Linked DNA regions of Homo sapiens. The protein of the gene in region 1 purifies or fractionates together with the protein of each later gene. This does not show direct contact. Each region holds a gene or a part of one and is shown in the gene's direction. Other genes may lie near its edges. The genes, in order: EDNRB, XPO7, ATP2B2 and LNPEP.

Region 1 (7,514 bases):
GCAGTATAAGCCTTAGGGTAAAATGGGTCAGCACAAACATAGGCTATCATTTTGTCAAATGGATACCATATTGCCAGCAGGACTTAACACTAACAACAGCTATTCAGTTAGATGAGACATCATGATATGAAAACCAGTGCCAGTTATGTGAGTATTGCCAACTGGCTCATATTTGATCAATGTTAGGTAACATATATTCAACTGAATTTTAAACAGGATTTAAAATTTTAATTTATGTGGAAGCGACATAGTGTCAATATTAAACTCTAAACACCCTTTTTGCGATCAGAGAGACAGCCTTTTGATTACATGTTTGAATTGTCTTCACTGTTCAGACCTTGCCCTTAAGTTATCTAATTTAATGGGGTAAAGTCCAAAGAAAAAACTAAAAATAGGGAATAAGGAATGTGTTATTGCTGGGTTTAAAGTTAGAGTTGCTTCCTCTTGCAATAAAGTGAATCCATTTCCTCTTCAGTGGGGAAAGCTGTATCCTTAGACTTCAAATTATTGATGTTAGATGTTGTTATTTTTCCCAAAGAATGATGAAGAAATGAATGTCTAAGAATCATACCCATCTATAAGAACAATCTCTCACCAAATTTTAAAGATGGCATCTTGGTTGAGAGTGAATTTTTTTTTTTTTTTTTTTGGCAAAACTTCATAGTTTTTCCCCACCAGGGATACCTTTATATTTTAGGTAAGCTTCAAGCACTAGCTTGCCTAAAGACTTTCTTGCTAGAGGCCATTAAGATGACAGAGATGAGCATCAATAGTGGGCATGGTTTCTGTCACAGAGTATCAGGCTTTGCTGGGTCTCCACAAAGCCTTCTGATCAGTGAGGCAGAGGTTAAGATTTTTAAAGGAAGAGCGTTTAGAGTCTCGCCAAAGCCATCCTTCTCACTACAAAATAATGGAAGCAACAGTGCATGCTCTTCCCACATCTTCTATGGCCTTCCAGAGCCAATAGCATCCAGTTCTAAATTGAAAGCATGAAATGCTGAAAGCTGATAAAGGTTAATGCTCTCTCTCTCTTTTTTTTTTTTTTTTTTTTTTTGCAGTCTCTTTCCCTTCAAAAGTGTAGACTAGAAAACTGTAATCTCTCCGTGGTGATTACGTGTCTGACTATCTCTCTGTTGAGCTTGAAGAGCATTGTTATAATTTTCAGTTTGTGTTTCCCTGTTTTCTGTGATAGCTTGGGTCAGAGGTTGGGCTGCAGGCCTCCAGTGGTATGAAGAGCAATAATCCAATTTCTAGGCTGAGCCAAAAACAATGGAAACCTCAAAACATGGCCTGGATTCAGTGCAGAGCTCATTTTCATCAGCCAGACTTCTTTCCCTTCAATGGTCTGGACGCTCATTCATCTTGATTCTTCTGATAGCCATACCTACAGGATAACAATATTAACATATTTGGAAATAATTTAAGACAGAATAAAATATTTTAAAATATCCAAATGTTTGTACATTATTTGAATAAAATAACTAGGGGGATTAGTCAGGGTTCTCCAGAGAAACAGAACCAGTGGGATAGATAGATGGATGGATAGGTAGATAGGTAGTTAGTAGACAGACAGATAAATAGATAATGAGGAATTGGTTTATGAGATTATAGAGGCTAAGAAGTCCCATAATTGGCCATTTGCAAGCTGCAAATATAGGAAAGCCAGTGGTGTAATTCAGTCCAAGTCCAAAGGCCTGAGAAACCAGTCTGAGGGCCAGGGGAGATGAAATGAGACATTCCAGATAGGAAGAAAAAGGGGCAAATTCCTTCTGCCTCTGCCTTTTGTTCTATTCAGGCCCTCAAGAGATTGGATAATGGCCACCCACCTAGGGTAAGGCAATCTGCTGTTCTGAGTCCACAAATTCATATACTAATTTCTTCCAGACACATCCTCACAGACACACTCAGAAATAGAGAATGTTTAATTGAGCAACCAGTGGCTGGTCAAGTTAACACATAAAGTTAACCATCGCACTAGGTGAGCAGAAGATTTTGCTCTGCATCTAGATATTTTACTATTATTTGACACATAGCTATAGGTTTAAAAAAAATTTGATTTAATTCTAAACATTTTGTTTTGTACAATCACCTCCTTCAAACCACTGTCGGGCAGGTATTATAGTGGTTGTAAGCATAGGCTCTAGACCATCTGGGTTCAAATGTGGATCTATTACTCACTTAAGTGAGCAAACAAATGCAAGCAGGCATGTGGGTTTCCTAATGAATAACAAATTACCCTACAATTTAGTGGCTTAAAACAGTAAATATTTTTTAAATCACATTGTGTCTTTGGTTTGGCAATTAAGGAGTGGCTTAGTTGGGTGGCCCTGGCTTAGGGTCTCTCAAGAAGGTACATTTAAAATACTGGCTGGGGATGCAGTTGTCCAAACGTTTGTCTAAAGCTGGAGGATCCTCTTATTCACAGACGTGGCAAATTAGTGCTTGATGTTTTCAAGAGGCCTCAGTTCTTTGCCATCTGGTTTCTCCACAGAGGTGCTTGAGTGTCCTCATGACATGGCAGCTGGCCTCCCCCAGAATAAGTGTTCCAAGAGAGAGGAAGCCAGTTCTTTAGGAACTAGTGTCAGACATCACACATCATCACTTTTGTCACATTGTATTCATTGAAAACAAATCACTAAGTCCAATCCACATTCAAAGGCAGGGAAATTAGGCTTCATGTTTTGAAGGGAGGAGTAATCAATAGCAGAATATTGTCTGAATAAGTTGTACCAGGCTGGGTCTAGCATAATCCTTGAAACCAGTTGGATAATTTTTATTCTTATTTCTAAGGGTAATTGGCAGTTCTTTTAAAGCTACATGGGTTCAAAGCTGGTTCAGACCTGTGGTGCACTGAGTCTCCCCCATTTCAGTAAATGGCTTCACCATGCACATGGTAAACCTCTGTGAGTGTCCTGACTTCCAACATCATGTGTCCAACCCATCAGCAAGTCCTGCTAGCTACCTCTACCCTTAAAATATATACAGCCTATAACCCGCTCTTCACAGCCTCAGGGCGCACAGGATCCAGCTCACCACTAGTTCTCATCAGTGCTTCCTTTCTTGGCCCTACATTCTATTCTACACTGGGCAGCAACAGTGATCTCTTGAAAAATATGTTAGATCATGCCATTTCCCTTCTTCAAACCTTGCAATGAACTCCCTCAAAAAAAGCATTCAAATTCTTCCCTCTACAACTTCATTTTCCATGCATTTGGGCTGGGTCAGTCTTCTCCAGCTTTAGTAGCTAGTAGCCTCATTGCTGTACCTCCAGTTCACCAGGCTTGTTTTGACCTCAGGGCGTTTGCACATGCTCTTGCCTCTGCCTAGAATGCTCTTCGCATGGCTTACTGTCTTATTTCAGTCAAGTCTCTCCTCAAATGCTGTCTCTTCAGGGTGACCTTACTGAGAAGCTTATCAAGAAAACACCTCAAATCCCACCCTCACTCAATATGATCACAGCCTCTGTTTAACACCATTTTAAGTATGTATGTGTTTTTTGTCTGCCTCCCTCACTATAGTGTAAACTCCATGAGAGCAGGAGTGCTCAGAATGGTGTCTGGCACATAGTGAATGCTCAATAAATATTCATTGAATGAATGAATGAACAAGCAGAATTAATGAGTCAGTTGATTAACCCAGAAGTCACAAGATAGAGGCTATGATGGCTCACAGATGTATTTTGATAATACAATGTTATATGAGAGTTTTTTAAAAATATATATGAATTGGACTTTAATAAATTGTGAGATTCATATAAAAATTCCAATCTGGGTTCTTTAGAAAAATCAAGAGATTTTTGTATTTGGAGCCCCTTAGCAAAAAGTATGTGATGTCTACTAGCAGCTGCTCCTTTCAGACAAAGTTTACCCCAGACCCCACCCCACTCCCTGTCATCTTCCTGACACCAATGACTTTCTGAGACCTGGCACCCTCCACTTCTCTGTGTTACCTGCCTGGCCCTGTAGGTCTTCAGGATCCTACATTAAGCATATATATGATAAGTCTGCCAACTTTTGTCCTACATGTCTGTGTAAGTTTTGATATCTAACTTAGAAATGAAGTTGGTCCTATGTTGAATCTCCAAGTCAAATTCATTATGAGACAAACATTTTAGCCTTTGACGTCATTCTAGTTATAGAACAATCAACTCAGCTTGACAAACTCGGTAGAGTCTTCACTACTAGTGAAAGGATGGAAAGACTCCATTGTGTCTCAAAATAATTTTCACTTTTGCAAGGTTGTTTTTCAAACTATTTTTAAGACCCATGGATTTGAAATACTTTTATTTTCAAAACCTCATGAACATTTGATCCAGATGTTCACCTAAAATGATTCATTTACCAGTGTGGGACACACCATATTGTCCTAAGAAAGAAAATAACCACATTTAATAATAGATGGTTTCATAGTCTGCAGTCAGATAAAGAGAAATATATACGTGTACATATATACACACTATATATATATAACATACTATGTGTGTGTATAAATATATATCTATAATAGCAATAACTATGTCTTCTTGCTCCTTATACAGCCAGTCACTGTTATATTTTAGAGTCTATGAATCAAGCACTGTTAATATTAAACATCTGCTATGTGTCAGGCACTGTTCTAGGCAGTTGTGGAGCTCATAGTCTGTCTTACACTCCAGGGATCCAGACAGAAAAAAATCTAAGCAAACAAATAAGTTAATGTGTTATGCCACAGGAATTGATAGACTATGGATAAAAAGGAAAAGAGAGTAGGGAGATAGGGATGTCTGACCGGTTACGGTATCTAATAGTGTGATCAAGGTAAGTCATGTTGAAAAGATGAAATTTGAGTAAGACCTGAAGGAGATAAGCGAGTTAACCAGGTGAATCTGTGGGGAAAGAGCCTTCTAGGATAAGGAAGGACCTACAGCGAAAGCCCTAAGTAGGAATGTGCCTGGTGTGTTTGAGCAACTGTGTAGCTACTCCTACTGAATGATTGTTCAGTTAGGTAAACTGACTGCAATGAAGAACAAGTGCCTGAATGCACATGCTGTTCTGCATGGAGTACTACTTCAGTAGGGAAGTCTGGTCTCCTCAGCTAAGGACTGTTTATCATTCAATTTTAATTAACCCATATTTTGCTTTGGCCATGATCTGGGCATTTCAGACTCCATGACAGTATACAGGTTCAATTTTCAGGAGGAACTTAAGCGACTGGCTCAAGTTTGCTCTGATGAGGTGAGCTGAACTCTAAGCTACTGTATACGCATGATGACTTCTTATAAGCTGGCTGCATTTTCATCAATCCCAACACACTTTCCTGTCCCATACATATATCAAACAATGGTGCTTTTCAAAGAAGTAGTCCATGAGAAAAAGAATGACAACCAGAGTTTATCCTACTCTGCATGTTAATTACTCTTCACTAAGTGATACAATTCAGAGGGCATCTTATGAAACCCCCTAACAGAGCTTCGTGTCTTCTCAATGCAGCTGCTGGCAGAGGACTGGCCATTTGGAGCTGAGATGTGTAAGCTGGTGCCTTTCATACAGAAAGCCTCTGTGGGAATCACTGTGCTGAGTCTATGTGCTCTGAGTATTGACAGGTAGAAGCTTCTATTTAATCCAAGTATATTCTGAATATATACTATTGTTTTCCATGTTACTTAGAAAATAAACTGTGCAATTCAATAAAACTAAGGTATGCCAGCTTAAAATACAATTCTATTTTTATCTTCAGATATCGAGCTGTTGCTTCTTGGAGTAGAATTAAAGGAATTGGGGTTCCAAAATGGACAGCAGTAGAAATTGTTTTGATTTGGGTGGTCTCTGTGGTTCTGGCTGTCCCTGAAGCCATAGGTTTTGATATAATTACGATGGACTACAAAGGAAGTTATCTGCGAATCTGCTTGCTTCATCCCGTTCAGAAGACAGCTTTCATGCAGGTAAATTTCACTTTTTTTATTTTCCTTTCTGCTCTTGCCTTATAAATATTTAGCTATTTTTCCCCTGTTCCCCACTCCTTGGGAAACTGTTGATTTATGACTGTCCTTGGCATAAATTAAGAGTATAGATCCAAGGACTGTGGAGTTAATGGTGATCAATGACTCAAGCTGCAAGAAGCTAGATCACTACTTCTCTAAGAATCCCCTTGATCTCAGTGGCATAGATAAACCAGGTCCACATGAAAGAATTGATGTGAATTTATAGCTTTCTACCTAAAGCCATGTTAGAAGTAAAATGTTTGGTGCCACAAAGTGAAAATAGCACTCAGGCAAAAGTTTTCTCAGCAAGGCAATTTACTTCTATAGAAGGTTGTGTCTCACAATGGAGCAATGGCGAGAGCACACCAGACAAGGGAGGGGAAGGGGGTGTTATCCCTGATGTAGCTAGTTCCCACTGCTGCATCTTTCCCCTATTGGGTAGGGTTGGACCGCACAGTCTAAGTTAATTCCAATTGGCTATTTTAAAAAGAGCAGGGGTACGAGCTGGAGTGGTGGGGTGAGTAGTTTCAGCGGGAAGGACAGTTACAGAGCAGGTGGCTAAGGATGACTAAGGTCAGAGCAGGTGGCTAAGGATGACTAAGGACAGAGCAGGTGACTAAGGATGACTAAGGACAGAGCAGGTGATGAAGGATAACTAAGGAAAGAGCAGGTGATAGAGGCTAGGAGGGGGTTGTTTACTGAAACTAGGGGCAAGGAGATGTAAAGAATGAGGGAGTTAAACTTTAAAATGGAGAACAAAGAACAGGGAAGCTGAACACACTGACATATTGGTTCTTTGAAGAGGAATTTACTGTATCCTACAGCCCCATAAGGACTGACAACTACTACGTAATCTGCACAAGATAGCCCAGTAGTTGTCAGAGGAATGGATGGTCCAGCAAATATTCAGATAGAAGTCACCCTGATATGGATGGAGTCTGAATGGCAAGACTCCCCTCTCTCTGTCTTTGATGCCAAAAAGAAAGCTGCCATTGCAAGAAACTTTTCATCCTGGTCATTTATTAAAGAACATTTGATTAGGGAATAGAAAAAGAATGATGATACTCGTTTCCAGAAGATAGATCCTGAGTGTAAAAGGCTCTTCCCAACAGAATGAGTTAAGAGACATTAATGCAAAGGGGGCTGGCTTAACTATTCCCAATGATTATTTTCTATTGAATATATAAGGAGACTAAATAAAACTTTATGAACTGTATATATCATGATAAGTAAAAGAATCAAGGACATAATGTGAAATTGAAAATGAAATTGCTATTTCCTTGTTTCCTATTAGTAAAAAGAAAAAAAAAGTGCTGCCTAGGTTACATAATTTCCTCTCCAACACAGATATATCTAAAGCAATATGAAAAAGATAACAGAGAAGAAAAAGAATAAGAGATACGACATAAGTCAAAAGCAGATTTTGTCTTTTTGCGAGGTTAGATTTATATGTTACTGAGCTAAATGGTTAACCTAGACCTTTTCGTATCTGTTGTTCCCATTAAACAAACTTGCTAAAAAATGAGAACTTCATCTAAACACTAAGTTATCTTTA
Region 2 (7,514 bases), on another chromosome or scaffold:
TGTTGGTGTAAATTACCGGTTGGTGTTATACACAAAATATATAAAGAAGACACAGTGAAGTAATGAGTGGTGTGCATAGTGTTTGTTCAGTAGAGGACTTTTCTGGCCATTGTAGCACTTCTCCAAATTAATGTAGACCTTTGTGTTCGCTGAAACATGATTTCAGTGTTGTCGGGTGTATCGTTAAGGTTACTGCAAGAAAAGGTAGCACAGTCAAGAGGGATGATTAAGAGAGTACTACTTGCAAAGGTATGGGTAAAATTAAGGGACACCAGCACGGGGTGGTGGTGCATGCCCCTGGGGCTGGCAGTAGTGGGGAGCCTCAAAGGGCAAGTGAAGGAAACCTGGAGAGAGTTGAAGCTGTGTCTTAGAGGAGGGCTGGACAACAAGAACTACAGCCATCACTAGAGAAACTCTGCCACTGCATAGCCAGCTGGATGGTCGGAAGAGGGGTACCCTGTTCCCTCTGCCCTCTAATCTCCTGCTGGTACTTTCCATTGGTTGAAGCCAACTAGAAGCCAGAGGGCAAGGGAGCTTGGCTGCTCTCCTCAACAGAGGTCAGCCTCCTAGGGAATAGGGCAGGGTGGAAAAGGGTCGAAAGCAGATCTAGAGGGGGCAAACAGAGAATGTAAATATCTAACACAGTGGGAACAGAGGGAAATGTCTTCAGGGATAAAGCTGGGTTGTGTTTTTTTGTTTGTTTGTTTGAGGCAGAGTTTTGATCTTGTTGCCCATGCTAGAGTGGAATGGCACTACCCATGGGTTCAAGCGATTCTCCTGCCTCAGCCTCCTGAGTAGCTGGAATTACAGGCATGAGCCACCACGCCCGGCTAATTTTATATTTTCAGTAGAGACAGGGTTTCTCCATGTTGGTCAGGCTGGTCTCAAACTCCCGACCTCAGGTGATCTGCCTGTTTCAGCCTCCCAAAGTGCTGGGATTACGGGCGTGAGCCACCACACCTGGCCAAAGCTGGCTTTTTTAGGGCCCAGATGTGATATGCTTATTTCTTTTTTTTTTCTTTTTTTTTTTCGTTTTTTTTTGTTTTTGAGACGGAGTCTCTCACTGTTGCCCGGGCTGGAGTGCAGTGGCGCGATCTCGGCTCACTGCAGCCTCCGCCTCCCAGCTTCAAGCGATTCTCCTCCCTCAGCCTCCCAAGTACCTGGGATTACACGTGCCTGCCACCACGCCCAGCTAATTTTTTGTATTTTTGGTAGAGATGAGGTTTCACTATGTTTGCCAGGCTGGTCTCAAATTCCTGACCTCGTGATCTGCCTGCCTCAGCCTCCCAGAGTGCTGGGATTACAGGCGTGAGCCACCACACCCGGCCGATACGCTTATTTCTTTATAGCATGTAATGACATAAGCACATAACATCTACATGTCAAACTCAGATTAGCCAAGAAAACTAAATCTAAAACTTTAAAGTATAAATTGCTCGATATTTTTAAGGGTGAAATAACGTATCTCAGCAAGAACAAAGATGCCATTGGAGTGGTCAAAGGAATTTGTACCTAAGGGAATTTCCAAACTGAATTTAATGGGCTGCCGTGGTCTGCTTGGATCTATGTTCTTTTCTTTTCTCTTTTTAAAATAATGTTGCTTCAGATATCCTAAAGAAGGATATTGTAGGAGGTGGAACGTTTCTGGTGAAAGTAACTGTACAGTCTTTTTAATCGTTGTGTTTGGGTTCTGCCCTGCATTTAGGTATTATCCTGCTTGGTACAGATCGCTTCAGTCAGAAGATCCCTGTTTAACAATGCAGAGAGGGCCAAGTTTCTCTCTCATCTTGTTGATGGTGTTAAACGAATACTGGAAAACCCACAGGTAAGTTTATCTGAGAATTTACATATGTATAGGATTAGTGTATGGCCAGCTGTTATGAGTCAGAAGGAAATCCATCCCAAGGCCCAGTAAACAATTCAGTCTGTTCTTCAGGGAAGACTGAAGTGAATCTCTATTTGTAGGCCAATTCTGAGATTATTTGCCCAAAAGAGGAGCTTATATCCTCCCGCTTCAGAAATGTAGGAGTTACAGGAAAGAATCACTTCGCTATAAGGAAATAAGGAAGAAGCTAGTCATTTTTCCCCCCAAGAAGTTAAGACTCTAACATCTCCGGGCACAGAGGCTCACGCCTGTAATCCCAACAGTTTGGGAGGCCAAGGTGGGCAGATCACTTGAGGTCAGGAGCTCAAGACCAGCCTGGCCAACATAGTGAAACCCTGTCTCTACTAAAACTACAAAAAAAATTAGCCGGCCATGGTGGCACGTGCCTGTAATCCCAGCTACTCGGGAGGCTGAGGCAGGAGAATCGCTTGAACCCGGGAGGCAGAAGTTGCAGTGAGCCGAGATCATGCCATTGCACTCCAGCTTGGGCGACAGAGTAAGACTCCGTCTCAAAAAAAAAAAAAAAACTAACATTTGGTTTTTGATTTTGTTTACCATTTTTAAAAAATGTTTATCGGTAACCTAAGTATATAGGGCTGCTTTTAGGTGGGAAGGAAGATACTTCTTTCAAACGTTAATTTCATAACTCGATTGCCCTTTTTGTCTTTTGAAGTCCCAGTGATTCAGTATTTTTTTGAAAGTATCACTTCTCTATACTAGAAGAAAATTAAAAAGCAGTTTATTTCAAAATATACTCAGTTTTGTCCCTCTTTTTAAAATTCATTTATTCATTCAACAAATTACATTGAATACCTACTCTGTGCCAGGGATACACGGGTGAACAAAACAAAGTCTTAGCCCACATATGCTAACAGAAGAAGACATATCAGGAAACTTACAATTAAATATACTGGTAGAATAGATTTTAAAATAGCTGTAATATTTGCTATATCATATAAATACTACTATATGAATAAATTACAGTAAGTGATATAAATATATGAAACATTTGTATAACTTTGCTAACTATCGGTTAGTTGTGCTGAATGATCAGTTTGACAGACGTGGAAATGAAAATTTCATTAGATTTCCTTTGATTGGTAACAATAAGAAAACAAGTCAGTCACGTCTTAGGTCGTGCCCACTTCTGCTATAATGAGCTTTACAGCCTCAGTGTGATCCTCCTGGGCTTCTGTTTCAAACTCTGTCCATTGAGGCTAATAATGTCATCTCATGTGATTATTATTGTGAACATATGAGATAATAAATGTGACTGTCCCTTTTCAAAGTGACTTTAAAAAATTGTTTCTGAACATTATGCAGACGTATCATTCTGAATCATGACCTGCAGCCCAGAAGTTAAAAAGTAGATTCTACCCCTTCCCCCATGCCATCTCAAGTATACATCATTCTTGAAGTATGTTAAGGCACATTTTACATTTTATTTTTCTCCTCTGCTACTGCCAGAGTTTATCAGACCCAAACAATTACCATGAGTTTTGCAGACTACTGGCCCGATTGAAGAGTAACTATCAACTGGGAGAATTGGTAAAGGTGGAAAACTACCCTGAGGTCATCCGATTGATAGCCAACTTCACAGTGACCAGCCTACAGGTTTGTCTTTGATTACTTGTGTCTTCCTTCCTAAATACTGGAATCTCTTGCTTGTTGGTTTTAACCATGTAAGAATATATTTTTTTTTCTTGGCAAAGGTAACCATAAGTCCAGTATAGCCCTACAGAGTAGTTACTATTGTGGCCTGTGATTTACATTTACACAAGTGCAAGTAGTGTGGGGAGAGGAACATGTGGGAATTACTAGGATAATATTTAGATTCATCCCAGAGAGAATTAGCTCATAGTCACCCCAAAAAAGCCAAGGTCGGAACAGGGAGCTAGACAGAAGAGTAAAAAGAGAGTTGATGCCCTCTCTTTCTTAGTCATGTAATATAGAACAATGGGTCTCAAATTTTATGGCTTGTATCACAGTCATCTAGGGGACTGATGAAAAAATATAGATTCTTGAGTCTTATCCCCATAATTTCTGGTTCAGTAGGTCCAGGGTAGAGCCTTGGTGTTTCTAACAAGTTCTTCAGGTGATTGTCATGCATACTAATGGTTGAGACCCACTTACATATGGCTTTCCTTATGGTAAGGCTTACACAGCCAGCATAGAGTAGCCCTTCTCATTAGATGCTTAATCTTGAAAATACTAATAAACACATTAAACTAGATGCCATACACAGAACAAAGCCCACAAAAGTCTATCCTCTTTTTTTAAAAAAAAGAAAAAAGTCTTTATCTTCTGTGTCAGTGGCATGGGACTAACACGTACAGAAATGAAAAATATGCCTTCTGCTTTTCTACTTTTCTTTAGCACTGGGAATTTGCTCCAAATAGTGTGCACTATCTTCTGAGCCTGTGGCAGCGGCTGGCAGCCTCTGTGCCGTATGTCAAAGCCACAGAGCCCCACATGCTGGAAACTTACACTCCTGAGGTCACCAAAGCCTACATCACATCCCGGTTGGAATCTGTGCACATCATACTGAGGTAAGGAAACTTAGCCTCATTCATTCCCGCACCAGTGGCCTGTTGTCACACTTCCTAGAGATCAGACACCCCATTGGCAAAGAGGTACTCGAAGCGTGTCTCATTGGAGCCACTACTGTTCATGGTTCTTCTTCCTTGTCAGCAGAGTAGCATGAGAGCATAAAGCCTGATAGAATAGTCTTGTCTCTTGAACATTTATATTCTATTCATATTCCCCCTTTTCACTGTCCATAGCAATATCTTTGAATAGAGTATATCCATATAATGTTTGTCCTTGCCGCTGTTTTTCTTTCAATGTGAGAAACATTTATAAGATATAGATGATAAGAATTATGTGTAACTTATAGGTGCTTAATGTGAACTCCTAAAGAAATAAGTGGATAAAGATTACACAATCTAGTTATCAATTCTAATTCCAGAGCTAGAACACATAAGAATTCTAAGCCACTGATCACTGATTGCTTTACATTCATACATGGTTTCTGTCTACATTGACTTAACTGAACCAAAATCCCGTAGCTAAAGAAATGTCAAGCCCTTTCAAAAATTACCTATATTAAATGAAGTTATAGCCCTGTTTAGGTAGCTTTCTTGTTTTCACTGGCTGTTTGTCAAGAGAATTTACTTGGAGTCTAAGGGTCTGGGGCCTTTTTAAGTTGGATTCTTAATTTGCTTAGCCCCAAGTGCATTGAATAGTCATGAGTTATAGTCTTAACTGTTGATGACTTGAATCAGTTCAAAATCTGAGTATTCATGAAGTTCACCAGCAAGCCTTCTTCTGTCACCTCCATAGCTTCCACTCCTGAGGATTCGGCTGGCTTCAGTGAGGCATTGTTGGGGAGTGGTTACATGTTTGTAGGCTCTGGGGCCGGATAGCCAGTTAGTAGCTCTGTACTCTTGGGCAAGTTGCTCCATTTCTGTATTTGTAAAATTCAAATAATAATAGGCCTGCCTCATAAGGTTCTTACAAGGATTAAATTAATATGACCTGGCACAGTGTGTAGCACATGGTAAGCACACAGCTAGTTTTAGTGCTGCTGCTCCTGCTGCTGCTGCTGCTGCCATTATCATATTGCAGTGTAACAACAGAAGAGCTCCTCATTGGACAAGATGTTAAAATCTAGGAGCTGGCAGATAAGGCAAGACCTAGTACAGGGCCACAATGCCTTGTCTGCAATTCCAAAGTCAAAGATGTGACAAAAGAAATTTCCTCATCAGTTTGGCATTAGAATTCACTTGTTACAAAACCGGACGGGAGTTGGTATGAGACCATTTGTAGTTTTTTTAAAATCCTACTTAGTATGACCATTTATAATATTCATAAGTTTTGCTACAGGAACGTTGAGTTTGATGTGCCACAAAGCCCATCAAGGGTTTTATATGATATGGTAGAAGCATCATACTGCCTTCCTCCAATTTGAACAGTTCTGAATTCCAAGACACACCTGGCCACAATGGCCTCCCACACAGGACTGTGTACTTATCCTACAGTTTACTATAGTCAAGAACAAGCGAAAGACTAAGAGTCAAGAGGTCAGACAGTTGAGAAGGGCAGGACTTTGAGGTTTAAGGCAGAAAAACATTAAGAGTTGAGAATTCAGATTGTAAGATTTGACACCAACAAGCAGAATATACCTAAGGGAGACTGATGCTAGGGCGAAGACATTGGCCTTCTGCCTCATTAAACATTCTTCCTTGGTTAAAAGTAATGTCGGGATGTAGACCTCTACAGTCAGAAATGGTGGCTAAGTGAAGAAGTCAGAGAGCTGCTATATTGGGCAAATCAGTAGTCATATTTTAAGAGAGCTGCCTTCCTTCTTCCCTTGGGAATAGAGATGGCCTGGAAGATCCCCTGGAGGATACGGGGCTGGTCCAGCAGCAGTTGGACCAGCTGTCCACCATTGGGCGTTGTGAATATGAGAAGACGTGTGCACTCCTCGTGCAGTTGTTTGACCAGTCGGCCCAGTCGTACCAGGAGCTGCTACAGAGCGCCAGCGCAAGCCCAATGGACATTGCAGTGCAGGAGGGTGAGTGTGCAGCGTGCTGGGAACTCTAGACCTGTGAGGAGATGTTGTCTAGTACCCCTTCGCTCATTGCCACCTCTTTCCTACCTCCCTGCAAAAGGATTCTTTCATCATCTGTTGTCTCCATATGCACAAGAATCTTTATGAATGAATAAATCCCTCAAGGGACTAGGGAAGAAGAACTGAAATCACATCTGCAGTGGGATTTTGTTTTAAGAGATGAGGTCTCGCTATGTTGCCACGTGGGCCTTGTACTTCTTGGCTCAAGTGATCCTCCTGCCTCAGCCTCCCGAAGTAGCTGGGACTACAGGCATGTGCCACCACACCTGGCTCCTGTCTGCTTTTTAATGCCCCACAGCACAGCTGGGACCAGGCCAAGAGGTTTATGACTGCTAAATCAAGGGCCAGGGGAAACAGGGAGATAAGTACAGATAGTAACCTGGGCTTCCTCTTTTTACCGGGCCTGGCTGGTGTTTGTAACATGGCACTGTGCCCAGCTTGGGTGTTTTTAACTCTAAGGAAATACTACACTAAAAATAATGGCCTTGTCTGATACAGGAACATTGGTTACCTAACGAATTTCCCTCTTAGCATTGCCCTTACCAAAGCAGAGAAGTAGCCATTCTCTGTAAGAAAAGTAAGACTTCATGGTTTCACCACAGTGTTCTTAAGATTAAGGAAGTTCAGAGTGAGGAATGTCTTCAAGAAACTATCACTGGAGGTGACACTGGGTCTGTCTCCTGCTGCAGGAAGGCTGACATGGCTGGTTTACATTATTGGAGCAGTGATCGGTGGCCGGGTTTCTTTTGCCAGCACTGATGAGCAAGACGCCATGGATGGTGAGCTTGTCTGTCGGTAAGTGCTCCCCACAGAAGCTCTCCACTCTGCCTTGCTGGCACTTCTCCACTCCCCGATAGGGTCCTCTCCACTTACAGAACGTAATCTGAACATGCTAACTGCCCATGAGACACAGCTTTCAAGGCTTTTGTAAGTGCCATGATAACTCTGCCTATGATCTTTACTTTAAAATAAAAAACCAGCAATAATTCAGAAAGG
Region 3 (8,079 bases), on another chromosome or scaffold:
TTTCTGGGCTCGCCACAGGGCCTCCTGCAGTTCCTATTTCAAGCTCCAATTCCCCTACTCACTCTGTGACCTTGCGCTACAATGTTTTACCTGTACCTCAGTTTCCTCATCGGTAAAATGGGAATAAAAATAGGATCCACCTCCCAGGGTTTTGTGAGGAACACACGAGGTGTGTGCACAGAATGCCTGGCACATAGTAGGATGTCAGTGTGAATGGTGGCTGGCCAGAATTCGCCAGAAGCCAGGCCTACAACCTCCTCCCTGAGGGAGCAAGGACCAGTAGGAGGAGGGGAGAATTGGTGACCTGCGTTCAAATCTCAATAGACTAGAGACCAGACCAGCCTCAGCCCTGCAGATGCTATCTGGGAACCCTTATCTACCAGCCAGAGGAGTTGGAAGCCACCTACTCTCCGCCAGCATTTTCCCTGGGGCCTGCTGGAGACTCTCACCTTCTGTTTCTTCCACTAATAACAGTTGCCATTCTCCTTTAACTTGCAACCCCGCCAAATAGGTATTATCATACCCATTTTGCAGATGAAAAAAACCTGGGACTCAGGGAGGTCGAGTCACTTGCCCAAGGTCACACATCCTGTAAGTGAGAGAGCTGGGAGTTGGACCCAGGTCTGTGTGGCCACAAAGCCTCCACTCGAGATCTGGTTGGCTGAGGGAGTTTCAGGCCTTGGTGGGAGTGGGGAGTGGATGCGAGGCTTCCATGTGACTGGAGAGGAGATTTCGGGCAAGCCAGCCCGTGTGGTCCCCTGGATCCACAGTCCACGGCCCGTCAAGGTCTGGGGCTAGAGATCCTGAGTTGTGTGCTTCAAACTTGGGTAACTTTAGGCAGGCGCAGAGAGAGGGGCCTAGGGTTTGAGTGGGACCCTCAATCTTGCTTTGGTCCTCACTGGCTCTGTAACTTTCACGTAAGGCCCTGTGGTCTCCAGGTCTCAATTTTCTTTTCTGTAAAATGGGAAGAAGCCTGGGCTCTTTGAGGGTGATCTGTGGGGGTCAGAGGAGACAGGAATGTGAGAGACCTTTGGAAATACCTTCTTATCCCCCGGGGAACCCAGCTGACAGCTCTTTGGGGCAGCAGTGACCTGAGAGCTGCCCCAGAACTCCTACCCAGGTGTCTACAGACCCCGAGCCAGGCAAGGCAAGGGCAGGGGTAGCCCTCATCCATGCTTCCCAGAAAGAAGAGCAAAAACAGAGAGCCCACGTCTCATACCGAAGACACAGCTGGCCTCTAATTACATTCAGTCCTCTCCCCTCAGACCTGCCTGGACCTACCTCCTCTATTGCCTTCGTGCAGAGAGCCTCCTCTATTGCCCTTGTGCAGAGAGCCTCCAGCAGCCTGGGCCAAGTTCTGTGTCCCCATTCCTAGACAGACTGACCCTATTCACTCACCCTGTGTCTCAGCTCCAGGACCCCTCCCCAAGGGAGAAAAACATGGTCTGGCCAACTAAACACAGAGTAAAAATCAGATTGGCTGGCTCCTCCTTCCGTCCCCCTCCCCTATGTCTCATACCTTTCCCTAACCCTGACTCTCAATCGGTGTCCACCATAAGCCAAATCATGCTGGAGGCAGAAGCTATCAGTAATCCTCCCAGCTGGCCTCTTGCCTCTTTCCCCCTCTTCCCTGTGGCTGACCCTGACCTGTCATTTCCAACCTTCCTGGAGTTGCAACACTAGTGCCATTGTTTGTCTAATTTCACAACACCTCTGCCTGTCCAATACCCCCTGCCCCCCAACACATCCTGGAAGGCCAGGCCAGATGACCCAGGTGTATCTGCTGCAGGAAGAGAAGGCAAAGGGGACGGGGCAAGGGACAGATGTCTGCAGCCAGATTCCACCCTCAAGAATGACCTTAGGCAAGCCCTGATCTTTTTCTTGAGGCTTCGGTTTGCTGAACTGTAAAATGGGAGAATTGGATAGGAGTTCTCAAGGGTCCAGCAGACTCATTCAAGCCTTTACTGCACCATCTAACACATGCTGGGACCTGAGACCTGGAATGCTGGAGACATGTCTGATGTGGTCACAGCCCAGTGAGGGAGACAGACGTGTAGACCATCACAATACAGTGTGGTCAGAGGTAGAACAGAGGCATGAACCAACTCAGTTGGTGGAATCAGGAAGGACTGTCTGGGGAAGCAGAATTTGAGTTGGACTTCGAAGAATGAGTAGGGTGGGCCTAGAACTGGGGTATACCCACAAGGAAAAACCTTCAAACTTTGCTGTTCAATATTTGCACTGCCTCAGGAGATAGGGGCATCCAGTCACTGCGGGGTGGATGCAGGCGCTGAAAGACATGGGATCTGGAATGTCAAGGAGATGGGAACTCGGCCAGGTGGCAGTTCTAGTCTTAGGGTCTGAAAACCAAAATCCACAACTGCCTGAGAGTTTGGCTGCTAGTGTGCGTTGGTGAGAGCCCAGCCCGTCTCAGACAGGGACCACCGGGAAGGTAAGACTCAAGACTTGGGAGCGGACGAGTGTCAGGGCTCCCAGTGAGCCCACACTCATGATGGCCTGCGCATGCAGGCAGCCCTGGGCTTGGAGTCCAGAGGCCTCCGTCACAAGTTTGGTCTACTCTTTACTGGTTGTGCCACCTTGCCCTGGCCACCACATCCCCCTGAACTACACAGAGCTTCCCCATCTGTACCTTGGGTGCTCACGGCAGCCACCCCAGAGGTAGTTGGGAGGATCAAATGATTTACTGTTTTGTAGGTGGCCTTTACAAACTGTAAAGTGTGCCGGACACAGAAGGCAGTGTGATTGTTGAAATGTGTGGCTCATAACAGGCTGCTTCTCGGGCTATTTTGTAAGCAGGGAAAGCAGTTTACCGCCAAAGATGTTGAAGTAATAATGGTGGGATTCCTGGCACAGACATGTAGGCTGGCAACAGATGGGAGGTGCAATGGGCCTTTCCGCCTCTGCCCGTCTTTGCCCACCCTCGCTCCAACATCTCGGAACAGCTTTACACGGGCCTGTTTTGGGGAACGGAGAGCCTGTGGGCCTTGGGGAAGGGCAGATGCTTGGCCCTGGTCCCTGGGGTGGAGCTGACTAGGGACTGCTGACTTAGAAGACCACCTAGAGGGGTGGCCAGTGGAATCCCCCCAACTACACCCCTAAGAGGGGTAGAGTTCCCATCTGCACCCGCAAGATGAAGCAGAGATGAGGCTGCTTTGGAAGCCCCCAGTCTTGGGCTATTGGTGTGGGGTCGAGAGCCTCCCTGAGGGGTGTCCTGGGCTGCTCTGTCAGAACCCCAGCAGGGAGCCTTGCCTGGCCTCTGACTCACACCCTTGCCCCAGTGGAGGCCAAGGCCTTGAATGACCACCCGGCCCTTGACATCGTAGCTTCGCAGCATCCTCCCTGCGTTGAGGCCACCCTGCGGGCTAAGGGGCAGGTGGGCACCCTTCCATGGGGCTGGGGGCTGAGGAGCAAGGAGGTCTCAGCATGGCCTACTGGTGGGAGACCCACCTCAGGCGCTCCCAACTGTCTCCCTCCCGTGGCCCCTCTGCACGGCCGGGTTCTGATTTTGGTGCAGTGCAGACTTTCAGCTTAACGAGACAAATTGGTATTCTGTGCCAGCCCAGGGATGGAGCGGCAGCTCGGGACGCTCGGGCGGGCAGCTCAGAGGTGGGCAGGAGGTGGGGGCAGGGGAAAGAGGCAGCTTCTGCCTGGAACTGCCTCCCGGGGCCGCCTCCAGCCCTGCCCCTGTCCCCCATGCACCCCTCCACCCTGACAGGTGCCCTGAGACACTGGTCCTGAAGGTCCTTCCACCTTCAGTGCCCTCCCTCCAAGCAGGGTACCCCTCCTGGAGGGGGCAGGGCAGTGGAGGCCAAGGCTTCAGAATTCTAGAGAAGCCCCTCGCCCCCGGTGACCTCCTAACCTTGCTCTTAGGGCTCTCCTCCCACCCATCTGGAGTTGAAAGAGCAGCAAGTCTGGCAGAGATTAGGCAGGAAGAGGTGAGCAGCTGGCTAGGGGCTTCCAACCCTACCGACTCCTCACCCGGGGTCCCTGGGTTCCCGTGGAAGTGTCAGTCAGCCCACAGTCGGCCTGCAACTCATCATAGATGTCCTGAAGATTAGGTGGGTGTACAGACATGCAGACACCCCTGCTGGTGGGCACCTTCTTGAGGCAGGCCCTTCTGCCAAGCCAGCCCCCACCACCACACCCCCCCGAGGGCAGGTGGGGTCGCACACAGGCAGGGCGGGTCGCAGGGGTAGCGCTTCAGGGCAGCAGAGAGCTGCTGCGGGCTCAGCTCCACTGGCCCTGGAAACACAGATGTGTTTAAAATGTGTTGAGTCGACTTCTCCCCATTTGCGACCTTTGCCCCTTTGCCCCCCAGGTCTGGGGGTGCCTTGACTGCAAAGAGGGGGGCCAGAGCCCCTGACCAAATAAGTCCCCCAGAAAGCAAGGGACGACTTGGGGCCATTTGAGCAAAATCCTCCCCTCTCTGCTCCCGTTCTCCCCACCACCACTCTCAGGACCCCCTTCCCTCCAGCACAGCCCAGCCCTACCCTCTCCGTGCCCTTGACATTCCCTCCTGCTTCTGGGGAGCGGGCATATTCCTGGGACTCTGCCAGCTTCGGTTCCTCATGATCCCACGGGAGGAATTAAAACCGCAAACAACAGCGTGGTGGTTCGGTCCACACACCCCCCCCGCCCCCCACTCTCCTCCCCCGTGCCCCCTCCAGAACCGGCCCTCCCTGTGTCCCTCCCTCCCTCCCTCCTCCCGCCCCCATCCCCCAGCCTCCGGCAGCGGCAGGGGCGGCCTCTGCCTCCCCCGAGATTGCATTTTGCCGGCGAGATGCTCTCCTAGAACCGGCGCCGGCGCCTCCGCCCCCCGCCCCCCACCCGCTCGGGCAGGATGGTACAGTCTGCAGAGGGGCCCGGGCACGCTGGCTGGGCTCAGCCGCGGCACCAGCTGCCGCACCGCGATTACGGGGCTGCCCGCCGGGAAACCGTGCAGGATTGGTGGTGATTTTCATAGCCAAGTAAGTACCGGCATCCCCCAGCATGAGAAAATAAAAAATAAAAAGCGCCCCACTCCACTCTCCCCTTCCTCCCTCACCCATTTTATTTTGTTTCATTTCATTTGATTTTTCTCAGTGCTGATGGTGGTGGCGGTGGCAGCGTGGAGGGGGGGTGGGAGCAGGGCTTGTTTATCTGGCAGCAGCCGAGGCTGCACTGGGAGCCGCCGCTGAGGGAGACACTAGTGTGAGGGTCCGCGTGTTGTGGGGGACGGCTGGATGCTGGGGACTAGGACAGGGGGGCCTCGGACAAGCGGATGCCCAGGGTCTCAGGTAGATTCCGGCAGCCTCTGGACTGCAAATGCCCCCTAAGGATGTTATGCAAGGGCCAGCAAGCTGGTGGCAGGGGACAAGGTTCTCTTCTCTCTGAGCCGGTCCCAGGGAGACCAAGAGGACTGGAGGGTGCCCGTTGCCCACCCTGGTCAGAGTCCCAGGAAAGAGGCAGGAGGAGGCCCCTGTGAAGCGTCCCTTTGGTGGGGTGGGCAGCTGTGTGCTGGGACTCATTGGGTCAGGCCAGCCGGGTCATGTGGTGGCAGGGACGTGTTCCTGGGTCCCCTCCATGGCCAGGAGGGTGGCAGGAACGGGTGGCCAGGCCATTTTGCAGCAGTCATGCTGGGTGGTGGAGTCGGCACCCTCTGCCCAGAAGCCCACTTCCTAGGCCAGCCTCAGTGGTCTCCAGCTGAGGGATAGGGCACCTGAGGCTCCTCCCTGCCCCCTGCAGGGTCAGGATGGGAAAATGCAGCAGGGGGCCTCAGGACTCCCTGAGGGTGGGTTGCGGACAGCAGCAACCCCTTTCTAGCCAAGTAGCTATTCCACACCACGGCTGTCCTCTGCTCACCCAGGTTGGGGGTTGGGGGTTGGGGGGGTGCTCTGGACTGGCCTGCCCCAATCAGGCAAGGGCCCTGGGGGTCTCGGGCCCTCCATGCAGAGGCCCAGCCTGGCTCGACCTTCAGAAGGGTAAGTGAGCAGGCAAGCCCGACCAGCCGGCAGAGGGTCTTAGTGCGACGCTGCATGCCCTGAGCCCAGCGTGGAAGGGGCTCCCTCCTCTCCTGCATTGCTCTCCGAATCGCTGGGAGGAGGCAGAGCTGACGTTTGGGGTATTTCCAGGATCAGCGGGCGCCATCCGGAGAAATTCTCCTTTGACGTGTGCAGTAGGAGGGGGCTTGGAGCGCAGGCCTTGGGGGCCTCCGCCTGTTAACTTCGTTGAAGGAGCAGTGGCAAAGAAGGGGCTGCAGCTCTGGGGAGTCCTGTGGGGGGTTGGGGGTCCAGGAAAGATGCTGATGGCCACCATTATTTAGCCACCTTCACACCCTAGTCCCATTCACATCAGGGCATATGCATGCCCACAAATTCACACATATGCACAGATACAAATATAGTACCCATAAGTAGTGCGTCATATATGTCCAAATCATATATACACATATGGAATGCCCATGCCCACACCCCAGCACCTGTAAATACAACCCACGTTCCTGAACACCACATGCTCACGTGCAAAACACAGCACACACACGAATGCAGTACACACATACACACCTGTGCATGCAGCTTGCCCACACATGCATGTAGCACTAACACGGGAAAGCAGTAGGCTGCACACAGTGCCCTGCAACAGCCAGAAATGTGTGTACCCACCTGAGGGCTGGCTCAGGTGTGAAAACAACAGGCACACACATGTGGGGCTCTGAATGCCATCTGCGTGCCTGCCCGTGCATTGGCAGGCACATGGCATGCTGGAATGTGCCCACAGGTGAATGTCAGTTGCACACATAAGAAGACGGCCACAGGCACACAGATGCAGCACCTCTGCGGATGCTGCGTGCACACACCCGCCCCCTCAGCTTCCAGGAGGCAAGGTGGCTCTGTGGGTGCTAGGGAGAGCTTGCCCCTTAAGGGACTTCCGATGAGGACAGAGGGATACTGGATCCTAAGTGCCCGCCACAGCCTCACACAGGCGTTGGGGGAGGGCCAGCCCGTATTCCCAGGGAGCTGTGATTAGACTCAGCAAGGCCATCTTGGGTTATTGATGTTCTTCAGAGAAGGCTGCCCAAAGTTGGAAAGGAGACAGAGGCGGCCAGGGACGCAGCTGCTGCCCGTGGCCCAGACCGCCAGGAGCCCAGACTGGCCCCACCAGCCCTCTCCCTGGCATCAGGAAACCAGCCCGCTGCTATGGGGTCTCTGAGAGCTGGGGCCTGGAACACCTTCAGCAGACTCCAAAGTCCCCTCCAGACTGAAGGTCAGAGAAGCTGCTGTGGCTTACGTTGTATGCAGAGCCTGAAATGCTGGCACCCTCCTGTGCTGTCCCGCTGCCCTCCTCTGCGTTCCCCCAGCTCAGGCGCAGGTATGGGTCAGGGGACCCAAGTAAATAATAGTAATCCAGCTAGCATTCACCCAGCTAACTGCTTTGCACGTATCATCTCAGTGAGGACGCCCATAGCCCTGTTATCCCCACGTCCCAGATGAGGACGCTGTATCTAGAGAGGTGAAGCTGTGTCACCCAAGGTCACACAGCTGGCATGTGGCAGAGGGGAGGTAGAAGGCAGGCCACCAGGTGCCCAACTACCCTCTTTGACCCTTCGGCATGAGGCCAGTTCAAATTGGGGTACCAAAATTTTGGGAACCTATAGCTCAAGAACTTAGAATTTTGTGGCAAGATTCCGAGAAAGAGTGAAGAGGATCTCCTATGGGTGAAGGCGGAGGAGCCTTCCCCAGGCGGGCGTGGCCCTGACCTAGGCAGCCGGACCGCTGTGTCGTCCCTTTACCCTATGGAGTTGCTGATGCCTAGAAAGCCAAAGCAGACAGATGCCTTCTGAGGCCACCTAGCTGGGACCGTTTATAAAAAGGAAACTGTGGCCCAGCCAGGCACAGGGACTTGTCCAAGGTCACACCGTGTTCTGTAGAGACCTGGGCTTCTTGCAAGTGCTCTCAGGCCCCAGACAAGAAGCAGCAGAGGCCTGTGTTGGCCCCTGGTTTTCCCCAGGTGTTTGACTGTGGGTGGAAAGTATGAGAGCCCTGGGCCCAGCCCTGCTCCTGACCAGCTGTGTGATCTTGG
Region 4 (7,514 bases), on another chromosome or scaffold:
CTTGCAAAACTGAAACTCTGTACCCATTGAATAATTCCTCACTCCCTCTCCCCACCAGCCCCTGGTAACCACTATTCTACTTCCTGTTTTTGTGAGGTTGACTACACTGTATATCTCATATAAGTAAAGTCATATAGAATTTGCTTTTTTGTGACTGGCTCATTTCATTTACCATAACGTCTTCAAGGTTCTTCCATGTTGTAGCATGCATTAAAATTTCTTTCTTTCTTTCTTTTCTTTTTTTTGGAGATGGAGTCTTGCTCTGTCACCCAGGCTGGAGTGCAGTGGCGCGATCTCAGCTCATTGCAACCTCCACTTCTCGGGTTCCATTGATTCTCCTGCCCCAGTATCCGGAGTAGCTGGGATTACAGGCATCCGCCACCACACCTGGCTAATTTTTGTATATTTAGTAGAGACGGGGTTTCACCATGTTAGCCAGGCTGGTCTTGAACTCCTGACCTCAGAAAATCTGCCCACCTAGGCCTCCCAAAGTGCTGGGATTATAGGCATGAGCCACCATACCTGGCTAAAATTTCTTTCTTTTTAAAGGCTGAATAATTTTCCATTGTATGTATATACCACATTTTGTTTATCCATTCATTCCTGGATAGACCTTTGTGCTGCTTGTACCTTTTAGCTATTGTGAATAATAATGCCATGAACATTGGTGTGCAAATATCTCCTAGAGACCCTGCTTTCAATTCTTTTGGAAATACACCTGGAAGTAGTATTGCTGGATCATATGGTAATTCTAATTTTAATTTTTTGAGGAACTGCCATATTGTTTTCTACAGCAGCTGCACCATCATTCCAATTTCTCTACATCCTTGCCAACACTTGCCATTTTCTGGGTTTTTGATAGCAGCCATCCTAATGGGTGTGAGGTGATAAACAAGTCTCTTAATTTAGAAATAAAACATAGCAGGTAGAGTTAGCAGTTAACAGAAAAGCTTTTGGGGGTAATTAGTTCTCTCCAGCTCCTTACCGTGCATTATGGAGAGAAGATTCAAGCATCAGATGAAGAGTTGGGGTGGAGGATTTGGATAACGTTTTGAGGTCTTTCCCAGCTCTGAGATCTTAATAAAGGCAGTAGACTGTGTTTTCTCCCTGCACCCCATTTACTGCTATAGTTCTACCATGAAACTTATCACACTGAATTGTAATGCATATAGTTATTGCTCTATACTTCGTAGTAGCCTGTGAGTTCTCAGAGGACAGAGGCTCTCATTCCTTTTCCGCTCCCTAGTGTCCAGCCAGTCGCCTGCCTGGTTCTTTGTGAGTACTCTGTGAATATTAAATTGAACTGATGTATCCATAGACACACTACTAGGAAGATAGCAGTCACTGAATTAAACTTTTTCTCAACCCTAAATTGTGTACTCAAACTTGTTATTATTACCAACCCTCACACCAGAAACTCCACCACAGCCAACTCTTCGCCTTTGTATTCAGAATATTTTCTTGTTATTCTCATGTTTGACCACCTCTCTTACAGCCTACCTACTGATGTCATGACAACTGTGTTCAAAGTTGGAGCAAAAACTGACAAAGGCTGGTCATTCCTTTTGGGCAAATACATTTCTATAGGCTCTGAAGCAGAGAAGAACAAAATACTAGAAGCACTTGCCAGCTCAGAGGATGTGCGGAAGCTTTACTGGTATGAAATCACCGAGGAATATGATATACAGAAACCAAAAGAATACAAACACTGTGCTCTTGGTCAGGAGCTCATTTTTGAGGGGATCTCTTTTCCCCACTTCTGTTACAGGCCAGGCCTAAGTTGGACAGTGTGGTGAGGAGACTACAGGTGCTGGGCTTTATCTTTATGGACAAGCAGAAAATCCTTTGCCCAAAAGGGATTACAAGATGTCAGGAGTCACAGCCCCCTCCTACTCCTTGCTCAAAAAGTCTTCCTCCCCTTGGAATGTTGTCTTATACACCACAATTGGTACTCCATAGTTTAGGACCAAGGCATTGCTTTGTGCAAGCTGTCATTTTAAAAATGTAGGCATTTCAGAAAAAAAAAATCACATATTAAACCTTCTAGGTTCTACGTTCATATGAATTTATTTGTCAGACTTTTCCTTTTTAATATGTAGTGATGAAGGCCCAGAAGTAGGAGTGTCATATGGATGAAGGTAGGGCAGTAAGTAGGGCCTCCTGACAGGAAGAACAGGCAGTGGTGGGGTAGAGGAGCTCTACATAGCCAAGAGGAATATAGAGGTATCTGCTGTAGAGAGCACAGGTGTTAGAAGTCGCACTGAGGATAGAAGGAGGCTTCTGGGTCTCATTACTTCTGTTGTATGATTTTGCTCAGATAAATCTTAATAGTGTCCCAGAGATGTCCTCAGTACCTGTCCAGACCCACTTACCAAAAGATACGCTGTAAATAGTCATTTTCTTTAAAGTATTAGCCAGCCTCTGACTTAAGCAAATAGAGAAAAATCACTGTTTTTAAACTATGCTAGTAATACACTAAGAATGCCCATGATAAAGAATTTAAACAGTACCTAAGAATATAGAGTAAAATATGAAAGTATTTCTCATGATCCTTCACTTCCATTCTCGTTTTCTCTGTTAACAACAGTGTCAGTCCTGGTCTTTGTATTCATCTGTGGGAATGGATATTTGTACATATGTACGTACATACATACACACATACCTACATATTTAACTGCATTTTAAAAACCATATTAGGTTTATACCATACCCAGTGTTTTGTGACCATCTTTTTAGTGAATGATCAGTCTATGAGATTTTCCATGTCACTTCATGAAGCCTGCTTTATATATAAAAAAAAACTAAAGTGTTTTATGGGTTCATAATATTCTGTAGTATGGCCCTATCATAATTTATTTAATCCATCACGTTTTGTTGGGCTTTTGTTTTTTTCTCTCCTAAAAATACTGCCACAGTCTTGGAGTGGGGCGTGGTTTCTCACTATAAACAGATAGTATAGCATAGTAGATGAGAACTGCTTTTGTTCAGATGTCGGGCTTTGGTATTTATTACTGTGTGACTGTGGGTCAATTAGATAACCTCAGTTTCTTCAACTATAAAATTGAGTTAGGTAGTATTAATAAATACCTACTTTATAGCATTGTTGTGTCAAGGACTTAGAACATTATTTAGTACATAGTGTCAGTAAATGTTTGCTACGAACATTAATAAGAGTATATTCTGAAATGTATCCTAATTTTCAAATAATTCAAATGACCTAGTTTTTTTTAAGAATAGTAATATAATTAACCTGCCCATTCAAATCAAATAAGGTTTTTACCAGAAAAAAATACCCACCTCCCGAATTGTAATAAATTCTACCAGAACTTATTTCCTAAATGTTTTTACTATTTAAAAACTATTTATTGTCATGTGACAATATAGGTAAATGCCTATTTTATTGGTGAGTTCTTTCTTCATTTAAAAAAAATGACATTTTCAATCTATAGATCAACCGTAGACTAATGCAACAGTTATTTCTCAATTTGCTACACAGCTTTAATTAGGAAACCATACTAATTTTAATTTAAGTTCAGTCATCACTTCTTCATGAATAATAATTTTGGAGGCTAAATCTGCTTTGCTCTTCAGGTTAATGAAAAGTAGCCTGAATGGAGATAACTTCCGAACACAGAAGCTGTCTTTTATCATTAGAACAGTGGGTCGACATTTTCCTGGACACTTACTGGCATGGGATTTTGTCAAAGAGAACTGGAATAAGCTTGTACAGAAGTAAGTTTCTCAGAGAATTATTAACTTTTAGTATTCTCAAGTTGTGCATTTGAAAAAAGCTCCCAGTGTTTTGGCTCACAGAAGTTAGGATTTGCTGTGAGAGGAAAAATACTTCCATGACAGTTTAACTGAAACATCCGGAAATTTTCACATTTGTTAACATAATTCCATAGCATGAATCATTTAACAGTAGCATTCCATCTAAGTTCTAATTAAGCCTAGCCTTGCTTGGCACCAGGTTACTTAGCTCAGCGTGGCTACAGACTATTTCATAGCAACCATTTAGCTATGCATATTGAAAAATACCTCTGTATGGCCGGGCGCGGTGGCTCACACCTTTAATCCCAGCACTTTGGGAGGCCGAGATGGGCGGATCACGAGGTCAGGAGATCGAGACCATCCTGGCTAACACGGTGAAACCCCATTTCCACTAAAAATACCAAAAATTAGCCGGGCATGGTGGCGGGTGCCTGTAGTCCCAGCTACTTGGGAGGCTGAGGCAAGAGAATGGTGTGAATCTGGGAGGCAGAACTTGCAGTGAGCCGAGATTGTGCCACTGCACTCCAGCCTAGGCAACAGGGCGAGACTCCGTCTCAAAAAAAAAAAACAAAAAGGAAAATACCTCTGCATTGCCAAGGCATCAGTTAAGAACTCACATTCAGCTAGATGCAGATGTAGGTTTTTTGCTTCTTTCTCTCTTTTAAATCAATAATGGCATTTCTGGGTGTACAGTGTGATCTTCGACAATGTTAAGCGGATTAATTGTCTGCATGTTCTGAACTCTTCCCTTTTTCTGCCCACCTTTCCTTCCCACCGACAATAAGTATGCATAGGGCTACCCCGGTTTCCTCAGTTGCAGTTCCGGGAGGAGGATTCCACTCTGGCTTTGGCATTAAAGACTTTTCCTTGCACTCAGGAACAACGCTTTACCAGCAGCTGCCTAATCTTTTTGCTCTTGTTTTTGTGTTTCTTCAGGTTCCCTCTGGGGTCCTATACCATACAAAATATTGTTGCTGGATCAACTTACCTGTTTTCAACAAAGACACATTTATCTGAGGTTGGTTTTATAAAATGATAATACAGAGACTGGGCAACCCTCCGCACACCCGGACCAGGCTGCTCAGTTTTAGTGAGATGGTGGATTTTCATGCTAATTCCTTCTCTTATCTCTGTCTTCCTTTATCAGTACTAATGATTCTGCATTGTGATTACTTCTAGAGGGTGGCATATATGATAATGAGGAAAAAATCTGATTCCATTCTCTTCCCTTGTCTCCCTAATACAAATAATTTAAGTGGTCATAAAATTGTTTGGAAGAATTGCATTCTTGGGGTGAATTCATAGCACCAAGCCTTTGGACTCTACTTTATTTATTGTTACTTAAACATCTCCTTGGTTCCATTTTAAGTTAGAAAAATGTATCTGTGTGGGAGTAAAAAGATTTCCTTTTTAAAATCATTTCAGATATCACCATACTTGATTGGGAACTCCATGTAGATACCTTGAATATTAAAGTACTTCTTTCTACTGCTTTCAAGATAGCAGCACAGCCATCACTAAGTTAAAGCTTATTTTAAAAGCTGGGGTTACCTGAGGTTTATCGTCCTTTTCTTCTTTTGAAATTCTTCTGTGTGAAACTTACAGGTTCAGGCATTCTTTGAAAATCAGTCAGAGGCAACCTTCCGGCTTCGTTGTGTCCAGGAGGCTTTGGAAGTCATTCAGTTGAATATCCAGTGGATGGAGAAGAACCTCAAAAGTCTCACATGGTGGCTGTAGCATGCACAACCGCACCTCATTTTGTTGCCCATTCAGAGAGCTTGTAAGCTTGGGCTCTGCCGCTTTTGCAAAAGCCAAGGTAAAGCCAGGATCGCTGCCAAGTTGTTTGCACTCTTTGGAGTTCTAGTTAGCTCAGGGCCTGACTGTATTTTTCATCCATCTTTTCTGAAGTGTCTTTGGGCAGTATGTAGTTATTTATTACAAAATTATATTCACCTAAATGCCAACCATCTACAAAAACAATGAGTAATTTTTCTACTTTGAAGATACACAGATGGGGACAAAAACCCTGTTTTGGAATTCTGTTCTATTCCTCAGTATCCAGAAAGTTACTGACACAGTAAAACAAGGAAAGTTCTACCCTAAGAGCCGCCATCACTTCAGGCCGCTGGTTTGTCAGCCATCTGTTGCTTCTTATTGATAGATGGCATTGGAATGTGGTACAAAGTTAGCTCTGAAGAATATGGTAACGAAGACAATAAAGCATGCACTGTAAGAACTGACCTCAGGTGTGCAGATCTACTTTGATTTGGGGTTTTGATTAATTCTTTATTTTTCTGAAAAAAAGTTTAAATAATGTCTGTAACTATTGTGTTTTTTTCCTGCCGAATAGCCAGGTGCTACAGATTTTTAAAATTTTTGTTGTATTGAAAAGCTAAACAAGGCCAAAAGGTTAAATTTTTTGAATATTTAAGACTTTCTTTTTCATCTTTTATAGCGTTACCATAGGAAACTGTTCCAAACTGAGTTAGCTTTAATTATAATTATTTTATTCATAAATGGTGATAGTCCCCAGATCTGTACACCTTTATCACTCCCTGCCGTAGATATACTTTAGGTTAGTATTTCTACATTCGTGGCAAGCATTTTGGTAACACCAGTGGTTTTCATTGTGACTTTTATCACTATCACTAAGAATGCAATTTAAGTTGCCTTTTGGCATCATAGATCATAGAAACTTTCTCTCTGAATCATACCCATGTGTGAATTTTCATTTTATATGATAGTGTAGCATATTAGAAGCATATTTTAAAACAGAGCCTTTGAGAAATTGAAAAACAATTATTTGAAGTTCACCATAGTACCTTAAAGGAACAAAGAGAATGTGGGATAGGAGTAACTTGAATTCGTGTTTAGTATGGTGGGCTTTGAATTTTTTTCACTATCAAAAATAGTGCTTTTGTTTAGTTAAAAATTGTAGTTTTTCTTTTTTTGTGTGTCCAAACTAACATAAAAGGAGTGGTCAAAGAAGGAAAGAAGAAAAATGAGGGAGGATGTCCGAAACTGTATGGCATTTTACTCCTTCTGAAAGAGAAATACTGTACTTGAATTTTTGAGCTATGCAGACTTATACCTAGATTGTTGTGTTTCTTTGATTCTTAGGAGAAAAGCTTTCTTCCTAATAATTCTTGAGAACTTTATATTTTGTTTGAAAACAGTTTCTATGTACATAAAAAGGGTATTTACCCATTTGTGAGCACTTAAAACACTCCACAGAGTCAGACAGTGGGAAAGGTCACCCTTTTTTTATTCGGCAGGTATCAAGTTAGAATGTATGGAATTGTGAATAAAATTATATTTTATTTTATGAAAATATTTTTATATAATAAAATTTAAAAGGCTGGTAAGCTAAAAAAATAGTCTTCTTTAATCCTAGTGTGTTTTCCCCAATTTAGTCTTTTCTAAAATTTATCTGTTTTAGAGTAGAAAATATTATATCCTGAGAATCACAGAATCATCTAAATATGTCTTATTCAACTGAAGTGATTGTAAGTCTTTATTCTTGTGCTTTGGTTAAATGAATGATAATTTAGTTGATAGTGAAAGTTAATGTGTTTTTATATTTTTAGAGTGAGGGAAAAATACTAAACTTTTGAGAGTTTTGTTGTCGTTGCTGGTTTTTTACCATGTGGTACTAAATTCCACTTTGATACAAAATTTAAATTTTGTAACTTCTCAAAATCACTTAAGATTCTTCAGTTTTACCTGTGCTTCTTGACATCGCT

The links.
Region 2: the proteins of EDNRB (region 1) and XPO7 purify together in Homo sapiens (affinity purification with mass spectrometry; 2 studies listed by BioGRID and IntAct, with this or other methods). This does not show direct contact.
Region 3: the proteins of EDNRB (region 1) and ATP2B2 purify together in Homo sapiens (affinity purification with mass spectrometry; 2 studies listed by BioGRID and IntAct, with this or other methods). This does not show direct contact.
Region 4: the proteins of EDNRB (region 1) and LNPEP purify together in Homo sapiens (affinity purification with mass spectrometry; 2 studies listed by BioGRID and IntAct, with this or other methods). This does not show direct contact.

What each region holds. Positions count from the first base shown.
Region 1 is NC_000013.11:77,901,562-77,909,075, reverse strand, and holds part of EDNRB (endothelin receptor type B isoform 1 precursor), read left to right. Parts: intron 1-633; exon of another isoform or gene 634-1,384; intron 1,385-5,468; coding exon 5,469-5,581; intron 5,582-5,715; coding exon 5,716-5,920; intron 5,921-7,514. UniProt on the Homo sapiens protein: Non-specific receptor for endothelin 1, 2, and 3. Mediates its action by association with G proteins that activate a phosphatidylinositol-calcium second messenger system.
Region 2 is NC_000008.11:21,978,379-21,985,892, forward strand, and holds part of XPO7 (exportin-7), read left to right. Parts: intron 1-1,705; coding exon 1,706-1,825; intron 1,826-3,352; coding exon 3,353-3,499; intron 3,500-4,261; coding exon 4,262-4,434; intron 4,435-6,267; coding exon 6,268-6,461; intron 6,462-7,207; coding exon 7,208-7,313; intron 7,314-7,514.
Region 3 is NC_000003.12:10,502,374-10,510,452, reverse strand, and holds the start of ATP2B2 (plasma membrane calcium-transporting ATPase 2), read left to right. Parts: upstream 1-4,866; 5' UTR 4,867-4,988; intron 4,989-8,079. UniProt on the Homo sapiens protein: ATP-driven Ca(2+) ion pump involved in the maintenance of basal intracellular Ca(2+) levels in specialized cells of cerebellar circuit and vestibular and cochlear systems.
Region 4 is NC_000005.10:97,023,026-97,030,539, forward strand, and holds part of LNPEP (leucyl-cystinyl aminopeptidase), read left to right. Parts: intron 1-1,495; coding exon 1,496-1,657; intron 1,658-3,591; coding exon 3,592-3,732; intron 3,733-4,707; coding exon 4,708-4,789; intron 4,790-5,376; coding exon 5,377-5,508; 3' UTR 5,509-7,514. UniProt on the Homo sapiens protein: Release of an N-terminal amino acid, cleaves before cysteine, leucine as well as other amino acids. Degrades peptide hormones such as oxytocin, vasopressin and angiotensin III, and plays a role in maintaining homeostasis during pregnancy.